Linked DNA regions of Homo sapiens. The protein of the gene in region 4 interacts with the protein of the main gene of each other region in a pairwise test. Each region holds a gene or a part of one and is shown on either strand. Other genes may lie near its edges.

Region 1 (3,898 bases), on a different chromosome or scaffold from region 4:
ATTGTATTTCATCACAAACTTAGTAAACCGATGACACAAAAATGTTTCATTCTGTAGAGAGGAAGACAAAAATGTTATTTTAATTCACTATCCCAAACTAAAAGACTAGAAATAACATCAATATATATTACTGTTACACTGATAAGAATGCATCAAGATAATCAGTGAAATATACTTACTTCATATTCATCAAATATCTGCCGATGATGAAAATAAGCATGTGAAAATATTCTGTAAATCCTACGGCATACTGATCCTAGTTTCGCTACAGATGATTCCTTTATGCTAACCCTAGAAGTAGAAAAGAAACCATAGATTCTTAGAACTGGATAGAATCTTAGGAACAATATAGTCCAATTTCTCGCTTACAAGTGTAGAAACTGACACCTAGGGAAAATAAGCGACTACTCCAAGGTCACACTGCGAGTAAATGCCTGGAGCCCCTGCTCCTCAGTTCTAGGCCAGTGTTCTTTCTACCTAATCACAGGGCCTAACTTAAATTCAGCATTATAGTTTTGAAACTTTGTAAAAGTTTAATGCAGTTAGAATAAATCCCTGACATTTCAAAATTTACTATAACATCTATTTCCAACATTAATACATTGTCCACTAGAGGCGATTGAAAACTCCTGAAAGGAATTATTGTTTTATTTTACAGAACTAGGTTATTCTTTCCTTTTCTTTTCTTTTTTTTTTTTTTTTTTTTAGAAATTAAGGCCAGGTGTGGTGGCTCACGCCTGTAATCCCAGCACTTTGGGAGGCCAAGGCAGGTGGATCATCTGAGGTCAGGAGTTCGAAACCAGCCTGGCCAACATGGTGAAACCCCGTCTCTACTAGAAAATACAAAAATCAGCCAGGCGTGGTGGCAGGCACTTGTAATCCCAGCTACTCATGAGGCTGAGGCAGGAGAAACGCTTGAACCCAGGAGGCAGAGGTTGCAGTGAGCTGAGATTGCGCCACTGCACTCCAGCCTGGTTGAGCAAGACTCCATATAGAAAAAGAAAAACAGAGAGAGAGAAATTAAAATTGTTTTTTTAAAATTGAAATTTTCTGCATATTTCTGATATCCTTTTTTAAAATATGTATACACAGAATATTAAGGTCAAAAGTCAGTATTTTTCTTAACATATTTTATATGAGCTCTTTGAAGCTAATCATATTTGGTGGGGGAAATCTCCAAATCTATCCACCTGGTAACAAATACCTTAATAAAATAAAAGGCAGTCACAAACTTCACCGATAATATATTACATGTACAGACTTCTCAGATCTTAAAAATCAATGAGCAAGGATAAGGAATCCTTCAAAAACAAATAAGAAAGTCTGCTCTTTTTTTTTTGAGACAGTTTCGCTCTTGTTGCCCAGGCCGGAGTGCAATGGCGCGATCTCGGCTCACCACAACCTCTGCCTCCTGGGTTCAAGCGATTCTCCTGCCTCAGCCTCCCAAGTGGCTGGGATTACAGGTACTCGTCACCATGCCCAGATCATTTTGTATTTTTAGTAGAGAAGGAGTTTCTACATGTTGTTCAGGCTGGTCTCGAACTCCCAATCTCAGGTGATCCGCACGCCTCGGCCTCCCAAAGTGCTGGGATTACATCCGTGAGCCACTGCGCCCAGCCAGAAAGTCTGCTCTTTAGGCATACTACATAAAGGGAGGTCGAGTCTAACTAACATAGAGATTCAAGTGAGCAAGTATATACATATCCCAACTCTAAAGCATGAGAGGGAGAGCTCTGCAGAATGACATATATGAACAGGTACTAGCCTTAGACTGAACTGGCCTTGAGCTTTGACAGCCAAGTTCTGCTGTTTAACCACAGTCCTAATTTCAAAACTTGAATAAACAAGCCAAAATACAACAGCTAAAAAAAAAAATACAAAAATGCATTAACGAGCAACCTAATTTTACTTTTAAAATACTAATCTTTTATTTTATTATTATTTATACTTTAAGTTTTAGGGTACATGTGCACAACGTGCAGGTTTGTAACATATGTATACATGTGCCATGTTGGTGTGCTGCACCCATTAACTCATCATTTAGCATTAGGTATAGCTCCTAATACTATCCCTCCCCCCTCCCCCCTAAAATACCAATCTTATAAATTAACTCTAAAATGTTTAACACTATGTTTAAAAGTTTCGATTACCTGCTGGGAAAATATTTATTGCTATTCAGAAGACATGCAGCACCATCAAGTGTGTGTCTAGTATAGTCTATAGCAGGACACTACAAAAGAAAGAATATAGAAATGCATCAACAAAGAGCTCTCTCTTAAGTTAGATATATTCATTATATGGGTATACCTTATTCCAAAGACATGAGCATGTTCTAAGAAAAAAGTTCCTTACAATTTCCGAATGCTTGTAAAATATAATGTTATATTAATAAGTAAGGTTTATTATCCCCTTGAACCATATCACAATTCTAGATGATACATAAACCAGTCTCCCATTTTTATTCCCAACATCGTACCTACAAGAAAACAACAATTACAGACAAGAAGAATCCTGATTTATCTCTGGTATCTCCAGGGATGCCTTCTTATATCCTAAACAATATTCCTTATTATGTCCCTAGCACTCTATTATCAATCTAGCAGCCCTCTAAAGAACTTTCTCCCAGATCACCTTTGAATTTTAACATGAAATATCAAAGTTTCCTTATATTTTAATAAATCTGACTTATTCTGTTCCATTTATCAGAAACAATGAAAAAAAGAAACAATGAAACACTGTCTCATGGCAACTCAGTAAATTTATTAAAGGAAAAATAAAACTGCAAAGTAATTGTCCTCATCCAGTCCTCCTGAGGGCAGACAGGGAGCAACATCAAGGGGAAAGCAGTCTAGAAACAAACCAGGGAGTCAACCAGAAGGAAAAAACAACTAGAGGAAGGAGTAACAATGACTGTAGCTCAAAGACTCTACCCAGTAATTAGGTTATTTTTCAAGTTTGAGACTGAAGCTGTCACTTAGAAATACGGTTTAGTAACTACTAAATATGGCTTAGTGCCGTGGCACTAAAAAATTACCTAATAAAAAAGAAGTATTTTTCTAACAATATATCCACAGGAATTTCTGATTAGTGGACTCCTTGCCAAAAACAGTACCATGAGCAATATTTATTGAAAAAAACTACCTTTCTCCAGATATATGACCACAGATGAGTTGGTCAAAAGCAAATATCCCAAGTAACTGTATTTCTCATATTTGTCATTTGGGTATACCATGAGACAGTTTTACAACCTTTAAACCAGAATCATCAACAGAAATACAGCAGACCCTTGAACAACACAGGTTTGAACTGCGTAAATCCACTTATGCTCAGATTTTCCCAGCAACGGCAAGACCAACCCCACTTCTTTCTCTTTCTCCTCAGCCTACTCAACGACATGAACACAACAAGGAAGACCTTTACAATGATCCACTTAATGAATGGCAAATATATTTTCTCTTCCTTACGATTTTCTTTAAAAAAAAGAAAGAAAGAAGGTCTCACTATGTTGACCAGGCTGGTCTCGAACTCCTGGCCTCAAGCGATCCTCCCATCTCAGCCTCCCAAAGTGCTGGGTTTACAGGCATAAGCCATCACGCCCAGCCCCTTATGATTTTCTGAATAACATTTTCTCTAGCTTCCTTCATTGCAATACACTATATAATACACAGAACATACAAAATGTGTGTTAATCGACTGTTATCGGTAAGGCTTCCAGTCAACAGTAGGCTATTAGTAATTAAGTTTTGGGGGAGTCAAAAGTTAGATACTCAGATTTTCAGCTGCACAGAGGGTTGGGATCCCAATCCCGGAGTTGTTCAAGGGTCAACTGTATAATGCAAGCCATATATTTAATTTTAAATTTTCTAGGCCCAATGTGGTGGCTCACGCCTGTAATTCC
Region 2 (3,793 bases), on a different chromosome or scaffold from region 4:
TCGTCTTCACTCTAAACTGCCTCCTGTCTCTGTAGATAGTGCCATTAACATCCAAGTTACCCAGGCTTGAAAAATGGATGAAAAATGCACTCAACCCTTACTCCTATATTCAGTCACTGAATCTTGAGTCTTCCTTTGAAATGGCTTCAGCATCCACTCCTTCCTTATTACTCTGGCCATCATCTGAAACCAGTTCTCATAATTTTAAGTCTAGATTCCCATATCAGTCTCCTAGATAGCACAGCTAATTAACGTCACTTCAGTTTACGCAGAGAGCTTTTGGGGTAAGTCTAGGTCAGACTCCCAAGTCCACTACTCATTCACTGTGACCTTGGGAAACTTACCTAAACCTGTTTCATTTGTAAAATGGGGAATAACACCACTTTCCTCTGAGAAGCCATTGCAAGAATGAGACATTCTTGGAAAATTCTTTGCACAATGCCTGTTACTTTTTTTTTTTTTTTTTTTTTTTTTTTTTGGTCTCACTCTGTCACCCAGGCTGGAGTACAGGGTCATGATCCTGAGTCACTGCAACCTCCGCCTCTCAGGTTCAAGCAATTCTCATCCCTCAGCCTCCCAAGTAGCTGGGATTACAGACATGAGCCATCATGCCCTAATTTTTTGTATTTTTAGTAGAGATGGGGTTTTACCAAGTTGGCCAGGCTGGTCTCAAACTCCTGGCCTCAAGTGATTTGCCTGCCTTGGCTTCCCAAAGTGCTGGGATTACAGGCATGAGCCACCATGCCCAGCTTAAGAATTCTTGATTTTTGGAACCTTGATTATAAGCTGCCTGATGTCTGGAACCAAAACTTCTGTAACACTCTATTCCACGTGTACTTACAAAACACTCTAAACATTTATTAAACAGTTTGATGAAGGCCAAAATAAGAGGCATATGCTATTCTACAACACGGTAACACTCTTCGTCACTTAAAATAATTAAGCTTTGAGAACACAAAATAAAGCTTTTTAAAAAAGCCATTCAGAAATAGGAAGCAGTTTGGGAAATGATTGTGCTACGCCAATCAAGAAAATGTTGTACCTCAAACATCTGAAGGTAGCAATCTGTTTTTTTCTTTCCCTGCAGCTACCCTTATTGGAAACATAAGGGAATATAAAGTGAAAACAGGCAATGTTTGCCTGTTTTTATAGCTTTTAGCCTTACCACTTTTCAGTTTGGGGATGGAATGCCTTTGGCTCAGTAGATTCTACTGGCTTTGGGGAGCTCAGAAAGGCCATAATGGGGCCTACAGGAAGAGGAAAAAGAGAGCTGACCTCTTAAGGGCAGGCCTTAGGTACAAGAGGCTTTTTTTAAAAAGTGACAAAACTTTTGAACTAAAGATGGAAAACGTAGTCTGACAAAGAATATTTGTGCAACTTTACAGTGCCAGTAAAATCATGGGAAAAGCTTGGATAGCCATACGTAGGTGTTTCTGAAACATGTCAGATTTTATATATATATATATATATATATATATATTTTTTTTTTTTTTTTTTTTTTTTTTTAGAGAGTCTTGCTTTGTTACCCAGGCTGGAGTGCAGTGGCACAATCTCGGATCACTGCAAATCCTCCGCCTCCTGGGTTCAAGCGATTCTCCTGCCTCGGTCTCCCAAGTAGCTGGGACTACAGGCGCCTGCCATCACACCCACCTAATTTATGTTTTTGCTAGAGATGGGGTTTCACCATGTTCCATGTTAGCCAGGCTGGTCTCCAACTCCTGACTTCAGATTATCTGCCCGCCTTGGCCTCCCAAAGTGCTGGGATTACAGGCGTGAGCCTCCATACCCGGCCCATGTCAGATATATTTAAAACTAAGAAAGCTTGGGAAAATCTCTGCCAATGATCTCCATATCAGTTAACCCCGTTCCATAGAGTCAGAAAGGCAGAGGGTCTTAGTGCAGATGCCTGCATAAAGATAAAACGTTGCATGTTCTTGGAAAATATGGCTAGACCACCCTTCCCATACCATCTAGCTGCAGTATAAATTAACATACCCATGTGGAAAAGTGGTATGAATCAAGAACTACAAAAGTGTTCATATACCCTTGACTAGAAATTCCACCTCCAGTATTTTATCCTAAGAAAATAATTTATACACAAAGACATTCATTGTGGCATTATGAGATATAATCTAAACTGTTCAAAATAAGTAAAGGTTATATGAAACATGGCACATCCATAACAATGGAGTACCATAAAATTAATAATAGTTGACACAGTTTTAATGACATGGAATAATGCCTGTAGGTTGCGGGGAAAAACCCCAAGATATAAATTACACTGAGAATGATGAAACTAAGTAAAAATATGCAGAAGTAGCAAAGACAATGGCAAGGAAGATGCAAAAATATCAAGTGATTTTTTCTGGTGACAGAATCATAGGCAATTAATTGTTATACTTTTCTGTATTGTCTAAATTTTCCACAATAAGCATGTACTACTGACATAAACAGAAAAAACAAACATTATTCAACCAGGCAAGCATTAAAGAATGGACATTGGGTACAGCTTTATTTATTTCTTTTAGGAATTGCAGGTTCCTAACAAAGTAGGGGTGAGGGGGGTGTTACAAACCAGTCACTAGGCAGGAACATTAGACTCCAAAAGCAGAGAAATGCTTAATTTTCTTCTACCTGTTTCACCACATTCATGTAGAACTGTAGTAAAAAAGATGGTGAATCAGGCTGAATCAATCTAAATAACAACTTAAGGCTCCCAAATCACATGAACCTAGGACCACTAAATCCAATGTCAGACGTGTTTAAATGGTGCACTGCTCTACATTTTTCTATTATGCAAAGAGCTAGAAAATAATGGTAGTGTCATTATGACATTCCATGAAAATGAAGAAAATCTTTCAGGAAAAATTAAGAAAATAAAAATGTTTACTAAAGAAAGAATGGTCCGGCTAAGTGCTTTTTTTTTTTTTTTTTTTTTTAAACCAACTGAAGGCCAGAGAAATGAAAGGCATACCCGTGAATTAAATTAATGCTTTAAAAAAAATTGACTTTACTTAAAATACAAACAAACGTCAACTAATGAATACTTTATTGGCAGAAAAAAAAGACAACTTGGCTGGAAATGCTGAGTGTCTTGGACTGGTCTGAAGGAAGAACATCTGAAAGGTCTGAATGTCAAAGTCAGAACAGTCTCTGGTCAATCCTACTTTGCTTAAAATCCAACATTTTACCTTTCTTCAAATTCCTCAAGACTAAGGAAAACTTGGTTTTATACCAAGAATTATGAATCAACCTACACTTGCTATCCCTTACATCACATTTTCATTCTAGCTTTTCTGAAACACATTACCAGATAAATGCCATATAACCTAAATTCACCTCAATGCTTTCATTTTGCCTTTACAATTACCTTAGGACAGATGCCAAGTTTTTATAACTTCAGGCCAGAAAATCCTCAAGTGGCTCACCTAATTGTCAGAAAGTGAGTGAGTGACAACAGACCTCAGGCACGAAACTATTTTCAGCACCAATTACACTGTGGGGGGTTACCAGAACAAGAAAAGGCCTTCATAGTTCTAAGTGAAGAAAGATAAAAACATTTTATTTTGGCCAGGCGCGGTGGCTCACGCCTGTAAATCCCAGCACTTTGGGAGGCCAAGGCAGGCGGATCACCTGAGGTCGGGAGTTCGAGACCAGCCTGACCAAAATGGAGAAACCCCGTATCTACTAAAAATACAAAATTAGCTGGGCGTGGTGATACATGCCTGTAATCCCAGCTACTCGGGAGGCTGAGGCAGGAGAATCGCTTGAACCCTGTAGGTGGAGGTTGCGG
Region 3 (3,898 bases), on a different chromosome or scaffold from region 4:
TAGGCATGAGCTACCACACGCGGCCACAAAATGTTTTATTGCAAATCCATGTTCATAGCATTATTTACGACAGTAAAGAGGTGAAAGCAACCCAAATCCACAGACCAATTAATGAATGAACATAATGTGGTATATACATTCTGCCTTAAAAAGGAAATTCTGACACATGCTACATAGATGAACCTTGATGCTAAGTAAAATATGCCAGTCACAAAAAAGACTAAAATGATTTTACTTACATGAGGTATCTAAAATAGTCAAATTTATAGCAACAGAAAATAGAATGATGGTTGTCAGGGGCTGTGGAAAGGGGAAAATGAGCAGCTGTCTAAAGGGTATAGATTTGCAGTTTTACAAGATGAGATGTACTGAAGATTGATCAATAATGTAAACATACTTAATACTAAGTGTACACTTAAAAATGGTTAAGATGCTAAGTTTCATATGTACTTTACCACAGTATAAAGAAAAACCCAAGAAGAAAAAACCACCGAAAACCCACATAAATTTTTTTAAAAAGGCCAAAACTCAAGTTTCTTAAGAAACAAAGGAAACTCATCTAATGTCATAAAATGAATGGGGAAAAGAAACTGTTTTATTCATCTATTTTATTAGTCTAAAACACTTTTCCAGATACAGGCAGATTTGTTCACATATCCCTTGTTCAGAATTTTTAAATTAATGAGAACATTTCCAAATTTGTCCTAAGGATAATAAACATATCTTAATTTCTCTGAGACATCACAGTGTGTGCATGCACATGTGTTCATCTAGATCTAGAAAGTGTGAGTGAGTGGGAAGAACAAGTATCCTACTAGTGTAGCAGGGAAGAACAGGACAAAACAGAGTACCTTAGGATAAGACAGAGATATAATGATAAGCTTAATATTTTAATACTACATGCCACATGATGCCTCACTCCTAGTCCTCCTCTCCTCTCACACAAGAGTTGTTACAGTGAACTAGTTACTGATGAAAGATATCATGACTGACAGATGACAAGGCAGTTAAAAAAATAAAAAGGTTAAATACAAAGTAAAGAACTAGCAATACAGTCTACTGAGTATCCCTAGTTTCTTAGCTCTTTGGCACCTGTCATCTAAGTCCTACCAACAAGTCAACAGGCATTTCGCAAAGGAAAGGCTATGTTTGATAAAAGGTAAAATGGAAAAGCAATTGTTCTACGGACACAACTCCAAACAGTCACGAAACAGAGGTCCTGGGCTGCCTTCGTTTGAAGCAAGGAACTTGAAAAATATAAAACTAAATGGGGGCCAGGTTCGGTGGCTCATGCCTGTAATCCCAGCACTTTGAGAGGCTGAGGCGGGCAATCACTTGAGCCCAGGAGCTCGAGACCAGCCTGGCCAACATGGCAAAACCCCACCTCTACTAAAATACAAAAATTAGCTGGGCTTGGTGGGGCACACCTGCAATCCCAGCTACACGGAGGCTGAGGCAGGAGAACCGCTTGAATCCGGGAGGTGGAGGTTGCAGTAAGCCAAGATTGTGCCACTGCACTCTAGCCTGGGCAACAGAGCCAGAATCTGTCTCCAAAAAACAAACAAAAACTAAATGGGACACAGAAAACTCTTTTGTAAGTAAACCCACTTACTTCTAAATGCTTAGTGGCCTCTTCATTTCTGGACATAAGCATCAACTTCGTACGAATACTTCGCAAATGCATGTCACTTAAGATGTTTACTCTCTTCACAGTTGCTTCACTGGCAGACTATAAACAAACAAGCTAATTACTCAAAACTTTAATCATTCTTCCAAATAGCACAAACACCATCCCATCTTCTATGCAAAGCCTTCCTTGCTTCTCATCTACTACACTTCTTTCACCTAACACTCACTACTCTGAGTAATCACACTTTCCTTTCTGAATTCCTGTATTATTTAGATCTGCTATTCAGAATATGTTTGATTGGGGAAAAATCCGGAATCTCACACATTAAGAATTTTATGATGTTAAGAATGTAATTAACATTTTATAGCTGCAAACAAATTTTTCTCCCACACTATATTAATAAATTCACTATACACTAAGTTGATCTTAGCTTTTCTCTTCTGAAATATGTAATTATAAAATCTGTGCAATATCCATTAATAAGCTACCTTATAATATGGTACTATCTTACCAGTATCATTAGCTGTGTTGTTTCTGGATGGTAAAAAATTCTGCATGCTCCTACTGCTTTCTTAAAATCTTTATGTGCATTTTCATTAGCACACCTAGAGAGAAATCAATTTATGTGTAAGAACTCAATAACAGATTAAAGTCAGAGGAGAGTCACAATACAAAGTCAGTGTTTCATTTTGACAAGCCCCACTAAAACCTTTGTTCATTAAGATGATTTTCCATCAGAAGGTTTGATTGGGCATTAGGGAAAATGTTTTGTAGGACTGAAAAATCTTCTTAATTCACAGAACAATTCAATAGTATATAAAATTACTCACGCCTCTCTCAAATCCTCAGGAACATCCACTGTGCATTTAAAGAAGGTATTTTTTTTGACAGTTTTATTTTGATTGACAGGCCGAAGTCGTTCAAATGTGACTATTTCATTGTAAGTAGCGTCACAAGCAGCATATTCAATGACATAAAACTAAAAGACATCAAAATACTTTAAAAATCCCATCTGAACAAAAATAATGAAGTTTAAATGAAGTTCTAATTACCTTGCTCAGCTTAACCAACGGACCCTCCCCCATGTGGCATAAAATACTAAGCACAGCTTAGCTACATCAATCTGATTTGCCTAAACTAGATTATAGGTTCTTACAAGCATGAACCTTGGCGGTCCTTACATGCTTGAGGTGTACCTCTGGAGAGCAGCTTTGGTGTTTGCCAATACAGAACACAAACAGAAATTAATGCTAATGGAAATGTCTGATCAACTATTTCTCAGGTAGGCTTTTAGAAATAAAACTAACAGTTGAAATAAGATTTACAAAAACCAAGCACTGAGGTACTTCCTTAGAAACTAGTCACAAAGCAAGTGTGAAGAGTACTTACTTCTCCTTTCATCATCCGAACTTTAGCCAACCACCACCCACATGGCTCTTGGTCATTTGCTCTTGAATATACCTGAGAAGAAAAAAAAATGCCTATATCCATTCATCCCAAAAGATTTCAATGCTGTAAATGACTTTTTATTAATACCCAATCCCAATAAACTTAAGAATGAAAAATGCTATTTTATTTAAATTGGCATATTAAATGCAATTTAAAGAAAGTGATATGTAACTTAAATTTACTACTTAAAAATAAAACTACTTTTTTGGGCAATTTAGCTTCTTAGAAATTAATTCCATATTCATGAGGTTTACTAAACATAAGTATTATTTTAAAGAAATGCTCTTACAAAGGAGTTTTAAATAATGTAAAACACAGGTCTTCCTGTTTCTGTCAACATTGTTAATATTAAAAATTGTTCTCAGAAAGTGATTAACGTAATTTTTAAATTCCATCGAGGATATGACATTTAGATCCCGTGCTAAAGAACCTAAATCAAATGTACTAAAATTGTTTAACTGAACAAAAAAATTACACACATTCAGTCCATCTAGCAGAATACATTAAGTATCTTACAAAATTCCTATCCAGGCCGGACGCAGTGGCTCACACCTGTAATCCCAGCACTTTGGGAGGCCAAGGTGGGTGGATAACCTGAGGTCAGGAGTTCGAGACAAGGCTGACCAACACGGTAAACCCTGTCTCTACTAAAATATAAAAATTAGCCGGGCATGGTGGCAGGTGCCTGTAATCTCATCTACTCGGAGGGCTGAGGCAGGAGAATCATGTCCAGAGGGTGGAGGATGCAGTGAGCAGAGATCACACCATTGCACTCCAGCCTAGGCACCTAGAGCAAAACTCCATCTCAAAAAAAACAAA
Region 4 (3,898 bases):
TGACAATCCAGGTTTGCAATTAAATCTTTTTCACATTAATCAAAATTGTGAAATAGGATACTTTGGAAGAGACAAAACTACGCCAAGAATGCACTGACAATGTATTTAAATTACATTACCTTGTTATTTTGTGGAAGGCACGTACATCTAACTTAACTGAAAACAAAAGCATTAAATCCCCTGTTGAATTTAAGAAAGATTAGTGCTACCAGAAACTCTAAGAAATGAAAGGGCAACTGGGAATATTGGAATTAAAAGTAAGGAAAGTTATTAAATTATAAAATTAGAATTGGCAAGAATGATAAAGAAAAAGCTTTTATTTCATAGGTAAGGTTTCGTAGGTTGAATGATCCAAAGCAATGAGGCTATTTACACTGTGTGGCAAGAGTTCAAATCTTTTCCTAGCTGAAATTTCATATACTACAGACCAACCAGCAACTGACTGAATCCCTGCAGAAAACCCCTTTATCCTAATTTCCTTCCCTTTGCTTCAAATACCCACCACACAATGTTCTGATCTTCATTTGGTCTTTTGAATCTATTTCTCTATTGAAAATAGAGCCTTCATTCAGTTTTTGAACAGGAGGGCGCTCTGGGGTTTTAGTTCAAATATCTCACTTGGGGAATGGCAGGAGGAGAAGGTTTGGTTGCTGTCTTCAACTACTTTTCAGGGCTTTCAAGTGGAAGAGGAATTTGAAATTCTGTATTATCTCCCAGAGGCAGAACAAAGACCATTTGTATAGAATTACAGGGAGTAAATTTCAGTTCTTCATGTTAGAACTGCTTAACATTAAAATGGGTTTCCTTCATAGTTAAATTCCTTAAAGTGAAGATGGCCTTGGAGAGGTAAGCTGCACAGAGAGTGCATGTGCCAGATAAAGATTACAGCAAACTTGTTAAGATTCCTTTTAATTCAATGATACTAATAATCCCAAACCAAATAAGGTGTTATAGTGAAGTTTAAGGGTTCTTGGTTTGATTTAAATTCACTTAGCTTTTGAGACATCTGCAAACAAGTTGTTCATATTAATGCCAACTTCACATGAAAGACATCGACATGCTTACCAGAGAAGGTGAGAGAAGAGACTTTGAGGGAGCTGCTTACCTGCTTCCTGTAATAACTGAAAAATACAACTGGTGATTTTATTTGAGATTGCAGCTTTTCCTTCCAGGTGGTTTTTTCTAGCTGCATTTCCTGCTGTAATCTGGTCCTTGGACTGCAGGAGGACTTTTCCTGGACTGTCTAACAATTCGTAGACTTCTTTTGTTTTACCCTCATATAATTTTTTACCAATGTTCAGTACTGTGGAAATAAAATGGAAATAGACCAAAATTCAGAAACTTCCTGAATGCTGAAGACTAAATCACCTAGAACAATTAATCTGTAAATATACAGTGATTAAGTAATATTAATAAAAATTAAATCATCTGTATAAAACCATATACTCTACAATGTATTTCTCATACCATCACATTTGATTCACATGATCTTGTGAAGAATTTTAATTACATAAATAATTGTAGAAATTAGTAAAGCAGAAATCAAAAGGGTTGAGGGTCATGCAGTTAGGAAATATAAGAGGTAGATAAAATCCTAACTCCTCTGACATCAAATCCTGTGCTCTTTCCACTATTAACCTGCCTCTCATAGCAGAACTGAACTAGAATTAAAATTAATTAAGACCCACTTAAAGTAATGTAACTATACTAGTATTTTCACAGACACACTCACAGTATAGTATCTAAACTATCTTGCAGGAAAAAATATGCGATTTTTGCTGATATTTGCTTTTTTGTAGGCAAAATGGGAACATTCAGCCAGATGAGTTTCTTGATTTCAAGTTAATATTCAAGAGGAGGCATGCCATCCCATTGAAGTTAGCACATTTGGAAGCATCCCTCTCTATTTCTTAATCCTGTCCCTGCCCCCATTAATCCTTTCTCTTCACTAACAGTTGTAAGAAATTGTGAGGAAGTGAGCACAAAGGAATCCAATTTTGATGCTGGTCACAAAACCTAAGAAGTACACAAAAGGATGATTTAGAGAAAGAGTAAAGATAACAGATGTTTAGGAACTTAAAATTTCGAAAGAGAGAAATCAACCCTCATACTTCCACAACACTCTCAGTATCAACATTTTCCCGGTGTATCCATGTGCCAAGGGATGTACCAGTAAATAATAATTCCTGCTCTCAAGAGACCTGAGTCTGAGGGGAGCTGATATTAAATAAGACATCATAATAATAGAATGCAATAAATACAGACTATGGGACTAGTCTAGACATTAGAAAAAGAAGTCTACAAGAAAGTGACAGGTTGAAATCTGAAGAATCATCGAAATTTAGCCAAAGGAGAGAAAGGGGTAGGTAGTGTTGATGAATAAATACAAGGTGGTCAAAGTGGATTGCAGAACTTCAGTCTGGTTGGAGCTGGAGCTCTGGGTATATGTACATTGCTGTTGGGCAGGGGAAGGGGTGGGGGCTGCAGCTAAAGAATGGCAGGAGACAAGACTTAAGAGTTGGACAGGGGCCACATCACCAGCTAGTGGAGGTAACCATTAAACAAAGTAGTTGTAATTTAGTTAACAGTTGCCACTGTAGGGCACCTAATTTAGAGGATGAATCTCTACCCTCCCTAATGTAATGTCTAGACTCATTAACATGGTTTAAAAGTCCCTTTAAGATACAGCCCTGGCTTACTGCTCCAAACTCTTATTTGTCTATTTCCTATCTAGAACTCCAACATCTTTAATTCTTATACAATCTTCCCCTAGCTTCTGACAATCTCTTCTTTCCTAGGCCTGGAAAACTTCCCTTCCATTTTGCTACACATCCTTCTTGTTTCACAAGCCATGCTGATTGAGTTTAGACTTTAACCCAAGAAGAGCTATAAGGCTTTTAAGTGCTAAAGCAAAACGCTATTTGGAAAGATCATTACGGCTTCTGTATGGACAATGAAGGGAGGAAGGGGTGAGTGAACAAAAACTAGAGCTTGGAAGACCAGTTAGGATGCTGTTGCAGTAACTTGAACAAGAAACGTCTGGCCAGGTGCAGTGGCTCACATCTGTAATCTCAGCACTTTAGGAAGACAAGGAGGGCAGATTGCTTTAGCTCAGGAGTTCAAGACCAGCCTGGGCAACAGGGCAAAATCCCATCTCTACCAAAAAAACAAAAATTAGCCCAGCATGGTGGTGCATGCCTGTAGTCTCAGCTACTTGGGGAGGTCGAGGCCGCAGTGGGCCAAGATTTGCACTATTTCACTCAAGCCTGGGTGATAGAGTGAGACCCTGTCTCAATAAAAAAAAAGGAAAAGAAAAAGAAATGTCTTGGTCTAAGGAAAGAGTAGTGGGCAAAGATGCAAGATATTTAAGATAGTAGCTTTGAGAATTCATCATGGAGGATAAAAGAGAGGGAAGGGTAAAGAACAGTGGGCCGGGAACAGTGGCTCATGCCTGTAATCCCAGCACTTTGGGAGGCCGAGGCGGGCGGATCACTTGAGGTTAGGAGTTCAAGACCAGGCTGACCAACATGGTAAAATCCTGTCTCTACTAAAATTACAAAAATTAGCCGGATGTGTTGGTGCACGCCTGTAATCCTTGCTACTTGGGAGGCTGAGGCAGGAAAATCGCTTGAACCTGAAAGGCGGAGGTTGCAGTGAGCTGAGATGGCGCCACTGCACTCCAGCCTGGGCAAGAGAGGGAGACTCCGTCTCAAGAAAAAACAAAAACAAAAAAAACAGTGCCCAGATCAGATAAAGAAATTAACATTTATATATATTAATATGCAGTAAGCCCGGGCAAAGTTTGTATCTAATGCCCCTCCCCTTAATTTAGTTGAATCTGTATTACTTAGTCATTAAAGAGGGAAGGAATTTGAATTAATGGGTAGAAACAACATAA

The links.
Region 1: the proteins of PAICS (region 4) and MOB4 interact in a two-hybrid assay, tested with the Homo sapiens proteins (one large-scale study listed by BioGRID and IntAct).
Region 2: the proteins of PAICS (region 4) and PIAS2 interact in binary tests that used the Homo sapiens proteins (3 or more experiments, as listed by UniProt).
Region 3: the proteins of PAICS (region 4) and FXR1 interact in a two-hybrid assay, tested with the Homo sapiens proteins (one large-scale study listed by BioGRID and IntAct).

The regions. Positions count from the first base shown.
Region 1 is NC_000002.12:197,546,668-197,550,565, reverse strand, and holds part of MOB4 (MOB-like protein phocein), read right to left. Parts: intron 2,231-3,898; coding exon 2,151-2,230; intron 292-2,150; coding exon 180-291; intron 52-179; coding exon 1-51. Other genes in the region: HSPE1-MOB4 protein, read right to left, coding at 1-51, 180-291, 2,151-2,230.
Region 2 is NC_000018.10:46,805,905-46,809,697, forward strand, and holds part of PIAS2 (E3 SUMO-protein ligase PIAS2), read right to left. Parts: 3' UTR 1-3,793. UniProt on the Homo sapiens protein: Functions as an E3-type small ubiquitin-like modifier (SUMO) ligase, stabilizing the interaction between UBE2I and the substrate, and as a SUMO-tethering factor.
Region 3 is NC_000003.12:180,947,058-180,950,955, reverse strand, and holds part of FXR1 (RNA-binding protein FXR1), read right to left. Parts: intron 3,092-3,898; coding exon 3,020-3,091; intron 2,610-3,019; coding exon 2,461-2,609; intron 2,236-2,460; coding exon 2,142-2,235; intron 1,730-2,141; coding exon 1,613-1,729; intron 1-1,612. UniProt on the Homo sapiens protein: mRNA-binding protein that acts as a regulator of mRNAs translation and/or stability, and which is required for various processes, such as neurogenesis, muscle development and spermatogenesis.
Region 4 is NC_000004.12:56,439,068-56,442,965, reverse strand, and holds part of PAICS (bifunctional phosphoribosylaminoimidazole carboxylase/phosphoribosylaminoimidazole succinocarboxamide synthetase), read right to left. Parts: intron 1,304-3,898; coding exon 1,106-1,303; intron 1-1,105. UniProt on the Homo sapiens protein: Bifunctional phosphoribosylaminoimidazole carboxylase and phosphoribosylaminoimidazole succinocarboxamide synthetase catalyzing two reactions of the de novo purine biosynthetic pathway.